Homo sapiens: one gene and its partners. The protein of the gene in region 2 purifies or fractionates together with the protein of the main gene of each other region. This does not show direct contact. Each region holds a gene or a part of one and is shown on either strand. Other genes may lie near its edges.

The links. Proteins that work in one complex are often made in the same cells at the same time.
Region 1: the proteins of TCTN2 (region 2) and TCTN3 purify together in Homo sapiens (affinity purification with mass spectrometry; 3 studies listed by BioGRID and IntAct, with this or other methods). This does not show direct contact.
Region 3: the proteins of TCTN2 (region 2) and POMT2 purify together in Homo sapiens (affinity purification with mass spectrometry; 2 studies listed by BioGRID and IntAct, with this or other methods). This does not show direct contact.
Region 4: the proteins of TCTN2 (region 2) and ALG12 purify together in Homo sapiens (affinity purification with mass spectrometry; 2 studies listed by BioGRID and IntAct, with this or other methods). This does not show direct contact.

Annotation. Positions count from the first base shown.
Region 1 is NC_000010.11:95,676,140-95,680,427, forward strand, and holds part of TCTN3 (tectonic-3 isoform a precursor), read right to left. Parts: intron 1-4,288.
Region 2 is NC_000012.12:123,690,744-123,695,820, reverse strand, and holds part of TCTN2 (tectonic-2 isoform 1 precursor), read right to left. Parts: intron 3,164-5,077; coding exon 3,098-3,163; intron 980-3,097; coding exon 845-979; intron 602-844; coding exon 524-601; intron 1-523.
Region 3 is NC_000014.9:77,275,096-77,279,383, reverse strand, and holds part of POMT2 (protein O-mannosyl-transferase 2), read left to right. Parts: intron 1-514; coding exon 515-655; intron 656-875; coding exon 876-990; intron 991-1,902; coding exon 1,903-2,008; 3' UTR 2,009-4,288. UniProt on the Homo sapiens protein: Transfers mannosyl residues to the hydroxyl group of serine or threonine residues. Coexpression of both POMT1 and POMT2 is necessary for enzyme activity, expression of either POMT1 or POMT2 alone is insufficient.
Region 4 is NC_000022.11:49,911,151-49,915,438, forward strand, and holds part of ALG12 (dol-P-Man:Man(7)GlcNAc(2)-PP-Dol alpha-1,6-mannosyltransferase), read right to left. Parts: intron 2,694-4,288; 5' UTR 2,616-2,693; coding exon 2,454-2,615; intron 2,368-2,453; coding exon 2,235-2,367; intron 1-2,234. UniProt on the Homo sapiens protein: Mannosyltransferase that operates in the biosynthetic pathway of dolichol-linked oligosaccharides, the glycan precursors employed in protein asparagine (N)-glycosylation.

The DNA.
Region 1 (4,288 bases), on a different chromosome or scaffold from region 2:
CAGAGATGTATCCTCTGAAAGTGTTTTTCAAATTGCAAATTGTGACCCACTAGTGGGTTTTGTCTAGCATTTAAAATACAAAAACAAACCAGAATAAACCAGAATAGAAAATATCTTTTTTTTTTTTTTTTTTGAGAAAAAGTCTTGCTCTGTCACCCAGGCTGGAGTGCAGTGGCAGGATCTTTGCTCACTGCAACCTCCGTCTCACGGGTTTGAGTAATTTCCAGGTAATTTTTGTATTTTTAGTAGAGACAGGGTTTCACCATGTTGGCCAGACTTGGTCTTGAACTCCTGAACTTAAGGGATCTGCCCACCTTGGCCTCCCAAAGTGCTAGGATTACAGGTGTGAGTCACCGCGCCCGGCCAGAAAATATCACATTTTCTGTTGTGATACTGAAAATCACAAATTGTGGGTGCACTGGGTATAGTAAGGGCATTGTTTCATAAAACTTTTGTGTCTATTTTATGTACATGTGTGTTGCAAACTCGGTCATGATATAAAATATATTTTCTTACCATGGGTGATAGTCAACAAAGGTTGAAAAACATTGCTTTAATACCTGCTTTTCTCTTTTCTGTTTTGCCTCAAAACTTCTTGATACGCTACTTCTATAGAAGCTTGGAACCAAAAAAGTTAATGATGATAAAATTGATAATAATGATATCAAGAGTAATATTTACTGAATATATACTACGTACCAGGAACTGTGCTGTTTTACTTTAATGATCTCACTTAATCTGTACAACCCAATGAGTATTATTAATTTCCATTTTATAGAAGAGAAAACAGATTTAGAGAAGTAAAATAACTTGATTTAGACCTAGGTCTGTCTGACTCAAAGCCCATGCTTACCATATAAACTGCAGACAATGGATCTCCTAGATAATCTAAAGAGTAGATGATTCACTTGGTGATAAACACAAATTAAATATTATAATTTTAGAAAGGTTTAGAGCCATGATCCTGTGATGCTACATTGTCTTTTAAATTCACTTATTGTTTTGGTTTCAATTGATACTGCATATTCCTTAAAACTAGTTGTTTCTTCCTAGAGATATATTTTTTAATTTAAAGGGTTTATATGTAGACATGACATATGATGTGTTTTATTAATTCTCAAATTTAAAGATCCCTTTAGAACCCTAAATAGTATAAAATTGTAAGTGGCAGAATACCATATAAACAAATGCTGTTTACCTCATGGGTTTGTTGTGAGAATTCAACACTTACAAAAAACACTGATTAAAAATACCACTAGTATCGGTCACACAGTAAATGTTCAATAAATGTTTATATATTATAATAATCATACAAGAAGATAGTGAAGTCTACAGTTTTTTTTGTTTTTTTTTTTTTTTTTTGCTGTATTTTCCCTCTATTTTATTGTTTGTCCTTGGGAATGGTCCAAAAATTTTGCTACTTCACTTTTTATAGAAAGAGGAATTTAAAGTGTTTCTATAGCTATATATTTACAATGAAAAATCATTCAGATAGTTCAGTTCACAATGCAACTGACCATCTAGCAGCTTGAGTTCAAGGTTTATAAACACAAATGCCTACCAGCCTAAGCAGATAACCTGAAAGAGAAGTGGGATGGTGAAGGGCGGGTTGGCTTAGGTTGTATGAATGCAGAACAGGGTAGAGTACTCTTTCTAAAAGTGGATATCACCATTCAGCAACTGAAGATTTTATGCCATGCAGGAATATAATAGGGTTTATACTGTCAGATTTTCAATTGAAGTCAGAAATCTGAATGTCTGGGAAATTCTTGATTCTTAAATGTTGGCATAAACTTAAATAATAAAATGCTTTGTGGGCCAAACAAAACAAGCCTATAGACTAAATGCAGTATATAGACTGGCAGTTTGCCACTCAGCTTTAGTTTTATCCTATCACTTAGATATTCTAAGCTGACCAACACAGCCTAGGTAAGAATATTATAAACTACAAACTTTCAAACAGTGTCCAGTGGAGTAGGGAGAAGCATCCCAGAAGATATACATTCTGCAAGTGTAACTCCTCCTCTTTTTTATTTTAAAAGCTTTGGAAGATGTACACTAGCTTTCTTTGGATAAGCTATTGCTATTCTGAGAAAAAAATTTCACAAGAGGCTGGGCGTGGTGGCTCACACCTGTAATCCCAGCACTTTGGGAGGTTGAGGCGGGTGGATCACCTGAGGTCAGGAGTTCGAGACTAGCCTGGCCAACATGGTGAAACTCCGTCTTTACTAAAAATACAAAAAATTAGCTGGGCGTGGTTGCAGGTGCCTGTAGTCCCAGCTACTCGGAAGGCTGAGGCAGGAGAATCACTTGAACCTGGGAGGCGAAGGTTGCAGTGAGCCGAGATCACACCACTGTACTCCAGGCTGGGAAACAAGAGTGAAACACTGTCTCAAAAAAAAAAAAAAAAAAAAATTTCACAAGATGTCCTAGACAAAAGCCTGTGTGGACGGAGAAGTGATTTCAAGTTAAGGACAAATAATCATAAATGCATAAAGAAAAAGTGAGTATGTTTATCTGACTTCTGGAGAAAATTTGCATTCAAGATTGAAGAAGTAAAAAAAATTTATTATAGAAGGAAATGCTTGCATTTGATAAACTTTTATGATATAAGTTTCATATAAGTATGAAATGATACTTTTAAGATGTTTTATTATAAGCTTATTGTAAGCACTATAAGATATAAGTATCATTTTATAACTCCTTATACTTTTATAGGAGCATAGCGTCTTTCATGGGGATGAGCTGGTTAGCCCATAAAGTGAAAATTTTTACACAAAATTACCTTTGCAAATCCCTCAAATCACACTTAGTAAAGGAACGTGGTTTTGTGTATATCATACCACATATTAATACATTCAAACAATTAATTTTTACTTAATAATTGGAACAGATAATGTTTCTTCAATTATGTATGAATGAAGCACAGCTAAAATTCTCAACTCTCGCCCACTTAGGCCAGTTAAAGTGAATGACTGTAGTGTGGTTTTGTAGCGGGGACAAACTAACCTGAAAAGCTAACTTTTGCTAAATACTAGAAAAAGCTATCAGTTAAAATACCCAGACAAAAAAAAGGCACTGAGTGACTTCAATGCCTAAAGGAACCAGAGATGTGGAAATACACAGTGAACAGTCCTGTGGGTATCTTTCCAAACAACACAGTAACCAAAAAATATAATTGAATGTTCTCATTAATACAGTTTCTGGTAACCTGAGTGTTGACCCCATTTCTAGGCAAAGAGAAATAACTTGCCCAACCCTGTTGTGAGGGAGACCCAAAGGTATTTTACTTCTGACCTAAATGTAGTCTCAAGTTTACTTTATTTCTGGGATGTAAGTACAGTGCAACAGGTAAGAATTTAAATCTGTTTGATTTTCATTATAAGTTACTAAATTGGCATGCCAGTTTATATGTGAATAATTTCACTAGGACCTAGTCATTTCTTTTTTTTTTTTTTTTTTTTTTTTTTGAGACGGAGTCTCGCTCTGTCGCCCAGGCTGGAGTGCAGTGGCGGGATCTCGGCTCACTGCAAGCTCCGCCTCTCGGGTTCACGCCATTCTCCTGCCTCAGCCTCCCAAGTAGCTAGGACTACAGGCGCCCGCCACTACGCCCGGCTATTTTTTGTAGTTTTAGTAGAGACGGGGTTTCACCATTTTAGCCGGGATGGTCTCGATCTCCTGACCTCGTGATCCGCCCGCCTCGGCCTCCCAAAGTGCTGGGATTACAGGCGTGAGCCACCGCGCCCGGCCGTCATTTCTAAGTAAAATGAAAATACCATGTTTTTAAACTTCTATAGCTAAAGATTGGTTTAAACACCAAGGCAGATGCTAAAGCTCTCCTAAGGCGCATAATAAACAATAGGTATATGTTTGCTACAGATTAAAAGTGTTCATTTAATGGAGCAGATACAACCAAGAGCTGGTAACTATAAACTAGTCACAGCGGTAACTTTAATCACAATCAACAGGCTCAGGGACTCACATATAACTGTGTGGCTGACAGATTGAACAATTATGGAAGGTGTTTTCTGTGGTTGAATCAATCAGAATAGTAATAATGGTAGGATTACTGAAAAGAAATTAACCTGTACTATAATCTGGGGTCAGATTTTTTTTAAAAAAGGATATAAGCGGTATTCATGACATCATGTTAATTTCAGTAATCAGGCAGGGTGAATAGACTTGACAAATTATGTCAGCTCACTTTAAACAAACATTGGTTGCTAACATAAATTAGCTCTTGGAAGGTAAAAAATTATTTGGTTAACAAATGACTGATAAGACAATC
Region 2 (5,077 bases):
AAGAGGCTGGGGCAGTGGCTCATGCCTGTAATCACAACACTTTGGGAGGCTAAGGCCAGGGGATCACTTGAGGTCAGGAATTCAAGACCAGCCTGGCCAACACGGTGAACAACAGCCTATCTCTACTAAAAATATAAAAATTATATTAAAGTGAGCAACCCTGCAAGCCTCTCTTTGGAGAAGTAGCAGATGAATAAAACTTCCTGTGTTGTGTGATTAAAAAAAAAAAAAAAAAGCCAGGCATGGTGGTGTGCACCTGTAATCCCAGCTACTCAGGAGGCTGAGGCAAGAAAATCTCTTGAACCCAGGAGGTGCAGGTTGCAGTGAGCCGAGATTGCGCCACTGCACTCCAGACTAGGCAACAGAGCAAGACTCCGTCTCAAAAAAAGAAAAAGAGAAAATAAAGAAAAAGGTCAGAGTCAGAAACTAAATTGGAGAGAGTTACTTATAACCATCCTGATGGCTGGGAGTGTTGAACTAAAGTATGTTTGTAAGATCAATGACTGGCATATACTCATCTTACCTGGATTTCCAGATAATTCTTCTTCATTACCACTATTATAGCTTAAAAATTTTACTACAAATCTCTGTGTCATTATCCCTAGAAATAAAACAAAATAAAATATAATGTGCACCATTTCACTAGGAAAAGAAATTATTCTCCATAGTGTTTACCTTAAAATTGCATTTTGTCATACAAAGTGTACTCTCGTTAATTAAATCATAAATGCACATAAGAAACAAGTCCAACTTAGTTTTATGGGTTATAATTATGAGAATCTTGAAAAGAGGAAAAAAAAATACTTTTCAGTGAAAGCATGCTTGCTACCCTCATCAAAGTTACCTTTCTGGTGGGCATTAATCTCTGCCCTAAAAATTTTAACATTTATTTCACTGATGGTATTATTATTCCATTTGAAAATATAATGTTCTTCCACATTCACAATTCTAGGGGTTGATCCGTTATTTAAAGGAGTTTCTGCAAATACAAGAATATGTTCATAAATTAAAGACCCTCTTTGAGCCTGACTCTGTTACTGGGAGGTTCTCTCTGCTTGCGTGGCCTTCCCCAAGTGCCCTGCCCCTGCCCTCCCTATCTCCAGCTCCCTAACATGGCACGGTCACTGCTTCCTTGAGGAAGCCTGCCCTGGTCCCACCAAGTCAGCATTAGCTGCCTCCTCTATGCCATCACAGTACCCAGAATGAGATCTGTTCCTTTCATTTCTATATCTCCAGCACCTGGCTCATAGCTTGCCATGGAGCATGCACTTGGTAAAATGTTTGTGAGATGAAAGACCAGAGGGTCAGTTCCGCCAGGGCAGGGGCCCGCTATCTAGTTCCCTACTACGGCGTAGGAACTCCACTAACATTTGATGAGCCAATGAATAAATTTGAGAAGTACAACACATCAGAAAGAGACACCCAGCACTTGGGGAGGCCGAGGTGGGCAGATCACCTGAGGTCAAGAGTTCGAGACCAGCCTGGCCAGCATGGCGAAACCCTGTCTCTACTAAAAATACAAAAATTAGGCCGGGTGCGGTGGCTCACGCCTGTAATCCCAGCACTTTGGGAGGCTGAGGCAGGCAGATCACGAGGTCAGGAGTTCAAGACCAGCCTGGCCAACACAGTGAAACCCCCTCTCTACTAACAATACAAAAAATCAGCCAGGCATGGGGGCAGGCACCTGTAATCCCAGCTACTCGGGAGGCTGAGGCAGAAGAATCGTTTGAACCCAGGAGGCAGAGGTTGCAGTGAGTGGAGACTGTGTCACTACACTCCAGTCTGGGTGACAGTGAGACTGTCTCAAAAAAAAAAAAATACAAAAAAATACAAAAATTAGCCGGGATTGGTGGCAGGTGCCTGTAATCCCAGCTACTCAGGAGGCTAAGGCATGAGAATTGCTTGAACCTGGGAGGTGGAGGGTACAGTGAGCTGAGATCACCCTATTGCACTCCAGCCTGGGCGACAGAGCAAGACTCTGTCTCCAATTAAAAAAAAAAAAGAAAAGAAAGAAACAAACAGTATCCTTCATTAAAAACTAAAGTTCTGGTAAAATTAGCCAAACTGAGCCAGTCGCCGTGGCTCACGCCTGTAACCCCTGCACTTTGGGAGGCCAAGGCAGGTGGATCACCTGAGGTCAGGAGTTCGAAACCAGCCTGGCCAACATGGTGAAACCCCGTCTCTACTAAAATACAAAAATTAGCCAGGCATATGGTGGTGAACACCTGTAATCCCAGCTACTTGGGAGACTGAGGCAGGAGAACTGCTTGAACCCAGGAAGTGGAGGTTATAGTGAGCCAAGATTACACCACTGCACTCCAGCCTGGGTGACAGAGCAAGAATCCATCTCAAAAAAAAAAAAAAAATCTGCCAAACTCTACGTAACTTATTTGGCTGCATCACAATTGGAAAGTTTAATTATCAAAAAAAAAAAAAAAAAAAAAGGAAAGAAAGCAAAAAGTGAAAATGCTGTGCCCTAAAAAGTTCTTTTAACTGGTCGGGCGCGGTGGCTCACACCTATAATCCCAGCACTTTGGGAGGCCAAGGCAAGTGGATCACCTGAGGTCGGGAGTTCGAGACCAGCCTGACCAACAGGGAGAAACCCCGTCTCTACTAAAAATACAAAATTAGCTGGGTGTGGTGGCGGGTGACTATAATCCCAGCTACTCAGGGGGCTGAGGCAGGAGAATCACTTGAACTCAGGAGGCGGAGGTTGCAGTGAGCCGAGATCATGCCATTGCACTCCAGCCTGGGTGACAAGAACAAAACTCCGCCTCAAAAAAAAAAAAAAAAAAAAAAAAAGAATTATTTAACTATCAAACATTTAAGGAAAGGTTCACGGAAGCTGGAACTAGAAGGGTCGGTGGAACTCAGAGAATCCAGGACTGTGGAGGAGCAGGCTCAAGGTCACAGAGAGCACTCTAAAGCCCAGCAGGACAGAACGAGGAACAAATGAAATGTTCCTGGCAGATCTTTCTAACTATTGTGAACCTTTTTAAATGACTAACAAAAATATACACTCTGAGGGTATATATTACTTGTAAGAAATGACATATCTGTTTCTGAAGAAATGACGTCAAAGTGTAACATTAAATACCTGTATTGGTGATGAATTTGTCTAGGTCAGTTGCTTCCTCATAGATCACTTTTGGTGTAACTATGCCTAAAGAGATAACATAAATTAACTTCCACAGGCGTACACATGGCCTACCATGATCACACTTACTCAAAGTATAGCTTACAAAGCAAATATGGTGACCGCAACTGCCCAGGGTGCTGACTACAAAACCCTCCCCACTCCCCAAAAACCATCAGATAGGAGTCCCCATCCTCTTAGCATCTAATTATAACGGAGGAAGAAAATCCACAACAAACACACAAACAAACAAAAACCAGGGTCACTGTGACATAAAAACAAATATGCAGTTCACTGCTGGTGGCAATACAAAATGGTGCAGACACTGTAGAAAACAATTGGCCAGGCGCAGGGGCTCACGCCTATAATCCCAGCACTTTGGGAGGCCGAGGCAGGCAGATTGCCTGAGGTCAGTTTGAGACCAGTCTGGCCAACATGGTGAAACCTCCTCTCTACTAAAAATACAAAAAAATTAGCCGGGCGTGGTGGCTCATGCCCGTAATCCCAGCACTCTGGGAGGCCGAGGTGGGTGGATCACCTGAGGTCAGGAGTTCGAGATCTGCCTGGCCAACATGGTGAAATCCCATCTCTACTAAACTTCGTCTCTACTAAAAATACAAAAATTAGCAGGGCGTGGTGGTGGGTGCCTGTAATCCCAGCTACTCGGGAGGCTGAGGCAGGAGAATCGCTTGAACCCAGGAGGTGGAGGTTGCCGTGAGCCGAGATCGCGCCATCGCACTCCAGCCTGGCGGACAAGAGCAAGACTTGGTCTCAAAAAAAAAAAAATTAGCCAGGTGTGGTGGCACATGCCTGTAATCTCAGCTACTTGGGAGGCTGAGGCAGGGGAATCGCTTGAACCAGGGAGGTGGAGGTTGCAGCGAGCCGAGATCACGTCACTGCACTCCAGCCTGGGTGACAGAGCAAGACTCCCTCTCAAAAAAAAAACCAAAAAAACAAAAAAAAAACAATTTGGTGGGTCCTCAAGAAGTCATATTAGCATGACCTGTCAGTTCCACTCCTAGGTGTCTACCCAAAAGAAATAAAAACACACATCTACGCAAAAACTTGGACACGAGTGTTCATGGCAGCACTATTCACAACAGTCAGAGATGAAAACAACCCACATGTCCATCAACTGAGGAATGGACAAACACAATGTGCTCTGTCCATGCAATGGACTATGATTCAGCCATAAAAAGGAATGAAGTGCTGCCACACACTACAAACACGGATGAACCATGGAACACCATGCTCAGTGAAAGAAGCCAGACACAAAAGGCCACATAGTGTATGATTCTGTTTCTAGGGAACACCCAGAATAAGCAATCCACGGAGACAGAAAGCAGATTGGTGGCTGCCAGGAGCTGAGGGAAGAGGGGTAGGGAGTGACTGCTAATGGGTACAGATGCCCTTCTGAGGCGATGAAACGTTCTGGAACTAGAGAGAGGTGATGGTGGCACAACAGTGTGGAAGGTACTAATGTCAATGAATTGTACACTTTAAAAGGGTTAATTCTGGTGGGACGCGATGGCTTACACCTGTAATCCCAGCACTTTGGGAGGCCTAGGAGAGTGGATCACCTGAGGTCAGGAGTTCAAGGTCAACCTGGCCAACACAGTGAAACCCCATCTTTACCAAAAACACAAAAATTAGCCAGTCATGGTGGCAGGCACCTGTAGTCCCAGCTACTCGGGAAGCTGAGGCAGGAGAATCGCTTGAACTTAGGAGGCAGAGGGTACAGTGAGCCGAGATCACGCCACTGCACTCCAACCTGCGTGACGGAGAAACAAACAAAAAGGCTAAATTTATGTTATTTGAATTTTACTTCAATTTCAAAATAATTAATATGCAATATGCTGTCTTACGGAACTAAACTTTTTCCAAAGAAAATAATTGGCAGTTCAAATATTATTTGAAGTTGAACCAGTAGAAATGATTTAT
Region 3 (4,288 bases), on a different chromosome or scaffold from region 2:
ATTGAGTTCCCATCCCAGTGCTGTTCTTGGTAACTTTGGCTGCCAGACCATGGGCCACAGCACCTGAGACAGTCACACAGGCCCTTTTGCCTCTGCAGCTCTCTGTCTGAACAGTCATAGTCCCAGACACCTCCTCACTCCATCCTCACCTGTAACCTCACCTTAGCGCCTGTCTGCCGCTGCAAAGATCTGTGTGGCAGCAAAGATGTGGGAGGTGGAAGTAGGGAGTGAAGCTGTCTGCAGGCGCAGAAGGGTTTCTTTAGAGGCTGGGCTGCCTCCTGCTGGTGCTTGGTGCACCTGCCATTGGTGCCCAGGCCTCACTAGGCTGGGCCCTGACCAGAGCTCTCGAGCCCCAGCTGCTCCTCTCCAGTTTCTGTAGCGTGGTTTGGGTTGGTCCAATGAGGTGATATGACATATTCAAGGTCACACAGCAAGGAAGGGGCAGAGCTGGACCAGAGCCTGGAATCTCTGCCCGCTCCTTGTCTTCTGACTGGGCTGTGCTGCTTGGGCCCAGGGTTGTCCCAGGTCCTGCTTCGAGGAGGCGGCCAGGTCCTGCTCGGCTGGACACTCCATTACTTCCCGTTTTTCCTGATGGGCCGGGTCCTCTACTTCCACCACTACTTCCCAGCCATGCTCTTCTCAAGCATGTTGACAGGTCAGTGCCACCCACCTGGACTTGGGAGACAGAGCAGGTGGAGGGCGGGCCACTGTTGGGCAGCAGTGCTGGGAGTGACTCTGCTCCTTGACGGGAGGCCACTGTGGGGCAGCAGTGCTGGGAGTGACTCTCTGCTCCTTGACTTGGAGTGCCTCCTTCTTCTGTAGCCCAGAAGTCACCCCCTGCCTGGCTGACTCCAGGTTTCTCTCCTCTCCTCTAGGCATTCTGTGGGACACCCTCCTGCGGCTCTGTGCCTGGGGCTTGGCCTCATGGCCCCTGGCGAGGGGCATACATGTGGCGGGAATCCTGAGCCTGCTCCTGGGAACTGCCTACAGGTGAGCATCTCTGCACCTCACATGCCCTCCCAGTGTGGGCTCAGCAGTGCCTCAGCCCTGATGCATTCGAGAATCCCCTGCGGTGCTTTTAACACCACCAGTGCCCATGCCTGGAGGTTCTGCGTCACCCAAGCCCAGGTGGGGCCGTGGTTTCCAGAGTCCCCCAGGTGATCCTAATGTGCAGCCAGGTAGGAGAAGCAGGGCTTAACTCTGCCTTTTCCCCTTCTGCCGGTGGTTCAGCTTTTGTGCCATCCCAGCGCACCTGGAAGGGTACCCCTCTAGTGACAGTGACTCTGTGCCAGAACAGCTCTCAGAGGGGGAGTGTGGGAATGGGGGGCAGGGAACCCCTCTTTAGTCACCATGGCCCCCTGTCAGAACAGCTCTCCGGGTGAGGGAGGGGGGAACCGGGGGGCAATGGGGGACAGGGCACCCCTCTTTAGTCACTGTGGCCCCCTGCCGGAAGAGCTCTCGACGGGTGGGGTGGGAAGGGTGGGAATGGGAAGTGTGTGGCTGAGTGGCTGAAAGGGAGAGTTGTTTGGAAGGCTCCCCGCTTCCCCAGTCCCTGGCCTTGGTGCTGGGCCTGTGGCCTGTGAGCACATGCCTGCCTAAGAGGGTTACATTCACATGTTGACAAACACCCCTGGCCAAATAGCCCATGACAAGACCCCTAGAAGGGTTGCCCTCCTGGGCCTCTTGGGAAGAGCCCTTTCCATGATTGTCATTGAGTCAGCATCTACTAAGCTCTCCAGCTACAGTGTGCCCCAGTGGGACTCAGACAGACAAGGCCGTGAAAGAGAACCGGGCTTGGCGATGGGGAATTTCTCTGGAGCTCCAGCAGGAGGAATGGAATTCAAAGCCCCTCAGCTGAGGCACTGGGGGTGCCAACTGCCTCCTACTGGTTCTCTCTCACAGCTTCTACCTCTTCCACCCTCTGGCTTACGGGATGGTTGGTCCCCTGGCCCAGGACCCCCAAAGTCCAATGGCAGGACTAAGGTGGCTGGACTCATGGGACTTTTGAGGCCACTGCAAAGATTCCAGCCTGGGTCCAGGAACTTCCCAGGAGAGCCAGCTGGGAAGCAGTACTGGACCATCCGGCCATGAGGAAGCTGCCTAAGGAGCCCGAAGAATTCTGCTGCTCACCAGGACCCAGCTCTGGGAGTGCAGCTGGAATGGAACCCAGCATTGGAGAGAGCCGGGAGAGAGCCGCAGCTCCGTCCACAGCACCACGGAGAGGACAGCGCCTCTTGGGCTGCTCCCTCGTGCACAGCGCAGGGGAGGATGGGTGCCAGAGGGTGGGAGTGGGTGCGCGTGTGTGTATGTGAGGGCATGTTGTCCATATCCCTGTGGAATACAGACCGTGTAACTGGACAGCTGAGTGTCATAAACTCTAAAATAGTCCAGGCTATAGTAATATTTTCTGGTATTTTTTTCTGTTGGATTTCTTTGGTTTTGGTTTGTAAGATCCATCAAAAATTCTCAGACCTCTGAGAGGGCCTTGAGGGCAGAGAATACTGACCTCACCTTGGGATGTCACCAAAGGCAGAGCAGATGGGACTGTCAAAGTTGTGCTGCCCTCCCTCCCACAAACAAATGAATCCAGCGTGGAGGAAGGCGCGCCGCCCCGAGCTGGAGGGCCTGGCTCCCACCATGCCCCCCAGTGGCTGCAGGTAGCTGGACTTCCTGCCTGTGACGCACAGAGAGCAGCGGACTCCGGAGCGTCAGCCTGCCTTAGCCCTTGGTTCCTCGTTTTTTGGGATTGTCACACTGTGACACTCGGGAGGAACGATGTCCTATCCTGGGCTGCTCAGTGTTCCCAGGCCCTGTGTGCCAGAGGCCAGGTCTCTCCAAGTGCATCTAGCCTGGCCTGGAGGGCAAGGCAGATGCATTCTCCTGGCTGCTGGGAGAGCCCATGGGAACCTTGCTTAGCGCCCAAGGTAGATGAGAGACAGGGCAGGGAATCTGCGTGGTGCTGGGATGTGGGGACTCTGGCCTCTCCAGACTAATGTTCCTGTCACCTGCTGAGCTTTCCCAGTGTCACTTCTGCAGTCCTCCTCTGCTCACCCCTCCCTCACTCCGTGGGCAATTCCCTTTCTCTCTGTCACTGCTTCAGCAGTGAAGACCCATGGCACCTAGAAATGCATGCCAGCTTCCTGCGTCTACCACTCTGCAGCTCAAACAAGAAGCTCAGAGCTGCCCCTTCCACTTCCTCCCCAAAAGGGATGAAGAAAACCCTGTGGTAGAACCAAACCACCCAAGGCCAGCCCTTAAGCCTGCCTCCACCTTCCTGGTGCATGACAAAATATTTCTTTTGTCTCAGAGGACTTTGATGCTTCAATATTTAATGATGAATCCGCCACACTCCATTTTCCCTCCTCTGAAGCTCCCAACAACTCTGACAGGGTCAGATCTCTTTAAAGCATCTTCAGGAGGCGGTTGCCACGGAGACTGGATATTGGTCCCAGGGACAGGCTGTGCTACCTACTGGGTGGTGGGGAGGGAAGCTTCTGGCCATGCTTGGGCATTCAGACCAACCATCATTAATGTTAATAGAGGAAATGCAGCAACGTCAAAAGCAAGGCAGGTTGGTTAATTAGATCTGGGGCCCGATGACCTCCCTTTCCCACTGCTACAGCCCTTTTGACTTCCCCCAGCAGGAAGCGCTGTCTGTGCGGCTGAGTCTGGGCCACTTGCTTAATTGCATTTCTGGCAGGGAAGGAGAGGAGGGATGGAGAAGCTCTGCTCGCTGCTTCCACCTCACCGTGTGTCCTCCCCTCCCCTCCCTTCCTCTCCTCCCCACAGGCGGAATTGCTTTCTTCTGAGCCGGGTGGGCTCTCCTGCAGGGAGAATGCAGGGGTCTGTGCTTGGCTCTTAGCAAAGCAGGTGGCCCACAGTGACCTCCAGGAGGTGGCTGATTTTCCTTTGTGCCTTCTTATTTCTCAGTAGGAACTTGGAAGGGAAGAGCTCTGAAGGAGCCAGAGGGGCAGCCACCTTGCATGAGGGTGAGGAAGGAGAAGCCCAGCCAGCCTCTACCCATCCCTCCCTCCCAATTAGGCTGCACTGGGGCCGAACGCTTCCCTGGGCTCCCACTGCCTTCTAAGGAGCCAAGGAGAATTCCCTGCCCACTTTCTGTTCCTCCATGCCCAAACTGGCAGATGCTTCTCTGGGAGCAAGGCCACATGGGCTGATGCAGCTTTGAGTGCTCAGGTTCTGTTTTCTGGAAGTTGCTGGAGAAGGGCTGTCAGGGTGCTTCTATGAATATGGGCTTCAGCTGTAGCACTTGGCAGAAACGTGATGTGTC
Region 4 (4,288 bases), on a different chromosome or scaffold from region 2:
CTCACCGTGGACCGGCCTGTCAGCCGCTGGCAAGAGACTGAAAACAGGAAGAAAAATGAACTTCTGGGTGGCTCTTGCTACCTTTCCAGAAGGCCAGAGGAACTTCGAAGCCATGTGAGAAGCAACTGGGTCCAGGCAGCTGTGGGGGCCAATGGGCAGAGATACCCAGGCACTGCCAAGGGGGCCACGGATGTCTGAGGGCTGGACCTGCTGTTCCCAGAATACCCCATGTGCATACCAGGCATTTTCTTTTCACTGATTGCTGGATTCGGACTGCAAATGTCTTTTTTTTTTTCTTTTTAAGGACAGAGTTTCCCTCTGTTGCTCAGGCTGGAGTGCAGTGGCATAATCTCGGCTCACTGCAACCTCTGCCTTCCGGGTTCAAGCAATTCTCCTACCTCAGCCTCCGGAGTAGCTGGGATTATAGGCGCATGCCAACACGCCCGGCTAATTTTTGTATTTTTAGTAGAGACAAGGTTTCCCATGTTGGCCAGGATGGTCTCAAACTCCTGACCTCAGGTGATCCCCCCGCCTCGGCCTCCCAAAGTGCTGGGATTACAGGCGTGAGCCACCATGCCCAGTCTGAATGTCTTAATAGGACATTTTTCACTGATACTCACAAGTGGGTCTGGCTCCAGCTGCTGTATTTTTGGTGCTGGAATTTCCCCCGGGCTTTTAAACAATTCACAGACCCCAGCAAAGCCCCGCTTCCCCTTTTCCCCATCAGGTCCATCCCCTGCGTCTCTTCTCTTGGTTTTCCATCTTCCCAAATGCCCAACAATCTCAACCCCGTGCCCAACAAGGGTAGCCTCGGCCTCACGATCAGCCTCGGCTGCGGGATCACCCTCGGCCCCGGGATCAGCCTCGGCCACGGGATCACCCTCGGCCCCGGGATCAGCCTCGGCCGCGGGATCAGCCTGGCCCCGGGATCACCCTCGGCCCCGGGATCACCCTCGGCCCCGGGATCAGCCTGGCCCCAGGATCACCCTCGGCCCCGGGATCACCCTCGGCCCCAGGATGACATGCTCTTCATCCAGAGAGGAAGGATTTTGGCCTGTGGCAGGGGCTGGGGGGGGCACTAGCAATTCCAGGTCACCTTAGTGGGATCAGGAAGGACACAGGGTGGGCTCCCGTTCACCAGCTGAAGCTGCAGCCCTCCAAGGTTCTGTCCAGCTGGAGTCCACCCAGCTCTGCCCAACCTCCCAACCTCTTGCTGCCAACCCTGGAATAAGCAGAAGCTTCCAAGGGAATGTGGACTCAGCCCCGGAATTGCCTGTGGACTTCCTTTCCCTGGCTCGTGGCCCCCCAACTCCTCCCCATTTGGGGCTTCCTGATGCCTCTACAGGACATGCACGGCTTGTCCAGCTGTCCCCGTGCCATGGTGGGTTTCCGTTCCCAATCTGCCCCTTCAAGAAGCAGAACTGCTCCTTCCCCAGGAACGTGCTACTTCTTAAAGCTCTCCACACAAGCTGGACTGACTCGCTGGAAGCATGTCTGGGTATTAAAAGCAATAAAAGCGTACTGAAATAAAAAAGTGGTGATTGCTGACTTCAAAAACTCAGGTTGTGTGACTGGGCGTGGTGGCTCATGCCTGTAATCCCAGCACTGTGGGAGGCTGAGGTGGGACAATCACTTGAGCCCAGGAGTTCAAAGCTGTAGTGAGCTATGATTGCACCACTGCACTTCAGCCTAGGTGACACAGCAAGGCCCTGTCTCAAAAAAGAAAAAAAAATCGGTTTTTAGAACAATATGTACAAAACGTTCTAATTTTTTTTTTTTAAAGTCCTCATGTGGGCACAGAGAAAGACCCAGGATTTGCACACAGGCCCTGCAGTGGTGGCCTCTGGGAATGTGAGGTTTCTGTTTGTAACATTCCCCAAGGCAAATGGTGCTGCTTCTGCAGGAATAAAGGCTGTTGACCCCATGGGGGCTTGCCAGGTGAGGCGGGAGCAGCAGGCTCAGGTGGCGAGAGCTGCCTCACAGGCAGTCGGCATTTCTCTTGTACCTGCCGTCACCCCTAATTTCACAGTCAAGAGTGTGGAGGCACAGAGGGGCTGACTCAGACGTCTTAGGCCTGACCTGAGCACCTGCTCTGAGCCGCCATGCCACGGTGATCGAGGGCAGGCAAGACTAACAGACAGCGTTCCTGGGCAGGAGGGACCGCGGCCTCGCTGAGGTCACCCGATGACACCACAGTCCCTCACTCCCTCCTCCTTTGTTGAAGACCCCCTTACCTATTAGCTGAGAGTAAAACTTGGACATTTCTAACAGCGAAAGCACGTAAACCGCGGGGCTGGAGAACACTGCGATCACCACTGGCCCGAGGAACGTCCTGGGGACGACTCCGGGGAACTCAAGATGGTCGTACTGCGAGGAGAAGGGCAGGTCAGTGCACCGGGGCCCTGCCAGCTGGTAACATGAGGTTTTCCCCAAAGACAGCAGGGGCCCCTCACCTGCTCCAGGTCTTGCCAGTGGTAGAGCAGGTCATGTGTGGCCTGCAGGTTGAAGCTCTCCTCCACTTTGGTGTAGGGACAGATGACCAGGTGGACAGTGGCTACGGCCACCAGCAGCCCCAGCAGCAGGGGCCGCCTGCCTGATGACCCCTTTCCAGCCATTCCAGGCTTTCAGCTTCACGTACCTTCACAGGCCAACAGTGCGAGACACCAGCCGTTAGCACTGCCACTCCACGCATGCTGGAAAAGTGGAAACAGATTCCTGAGGTTCGAAAGTCACGCTTGCGCTCACGTTTGGGAGATCCGGGTAAAGGGTTAGCAGAATTCTCTGAACTACTGTCTTAGTCGCACTACTACAAATCTGAAAACGCATCAAGATGGAAAGTTTGGAGAAAAAATCACACTTGAGAATCTTTCATACTGTAACCAGTGATCTGACACTTCCAGCTCTGTGAATGTTTTTCTAGGCAGAAGGATCTCAGTCGCAGAACCCTGAGTCTGACCAGGCCTGGGCCACGAGGGCAATGGAGGGTGGTAAATGGCCCCTGCCCCCCAGTCTAAATCTGGCAGGAGAGTCAGCAAAACCCAGGCTTGGCCCCGAGGGAACCGGCTGAAGAAGACGGAATGGGAGGCTGAGGGGTGCCAGTTAGCTGGGTGGGAGGCACCAAGCTGGAGAGTGGTGGACAGGGGCCCCGGGAGGGCAAGAAACTGAACGTAGTACAGCTGCTGGGACACAGGGCTCGAGTGGCCAGCAAAGCCCCCGCTCCCAGGAATGGTGGGATGGGGCTGTGGACGCCTGCGCCGAACCCCACCCTGGGGGCTGGGAGAAGCCATGGCCGGCTTTCCCAAAGGTGGCACCACACTGGCCATGAGCCTGCATGTGAGCCTGGGAAGACTGGCAATGGGTCCCCCAAACACTAACAGGACAACCTCAGGGGCCCGTGGCACGGAGCTTCCTGAGAGGCCAGCAACATGTCCAGCTGCTACACGTGAGAGACCAAGGGAGGGGAGGGGGCAAACTCTTCACGTTTCTGGCTTCTTTTAAAACAGATTTGATTTTATTCAATCCAAACCAGAAGGGCCAGAAGCAAAGGGAGAGAGAACCCCAGGGCTTACCATTTATTAAAACTACTTTAAAAATTTTTTTTAAGAGACAGCGTCTTACTCTGTCACCCAAGCTGGAGTGCAGTGGAGTGATCATGGCTCACTGCAGCCTCAAACTCCTGGGATCCTTTTGCCTGAGCCTCCTGAGTAGCCGCAGCTACAGGTGTGGGTCACCACACTCAGCTAAGTTTTCTTATTTTTTGTAAAGACAGGGTCTTGCTTTGTAGCCCAGGCTGGTATGGAATTCCTGGCTTCAAGCCATCTTCCTACCTTGGCCTCCTGAAGTATTGGGATTACAGGCGTGGGCCACCATGCCCAGCCAAAACTATCTTTTGATCAAACGGAGAGTTAAGAAGTATACAAAGATGGCAACCAAAGGAAAATCTGTAGATTAGAAGGAAGGAGAACCCTATTTGATATGGTGGGCAGGGGGTGGAGAGAAAGAAAAAAGAAAGCTTTAATAATTTTACGACTGAAATGGTATGCAGTTCTCTCCTTTGCCAAATATAAAAACCTGGGGCCGGGCGCGGTCGCTCATTCCCGTAATCCCAGCTCTTTGGGAGGCTGAGGGCCAGGTGCGGTGGCTCATTCCCATAATCCCAGCTCTTCGGGAGGCTGAGGTGGGTGGATCACGAGGTCAGCAGATCAAGACCATCCTGGCCAACATGGTGAAACCCTGTCTCTACTAAAAATACAAAAATTAGCTGGGCATGGTAGTGCACGCCTATAAT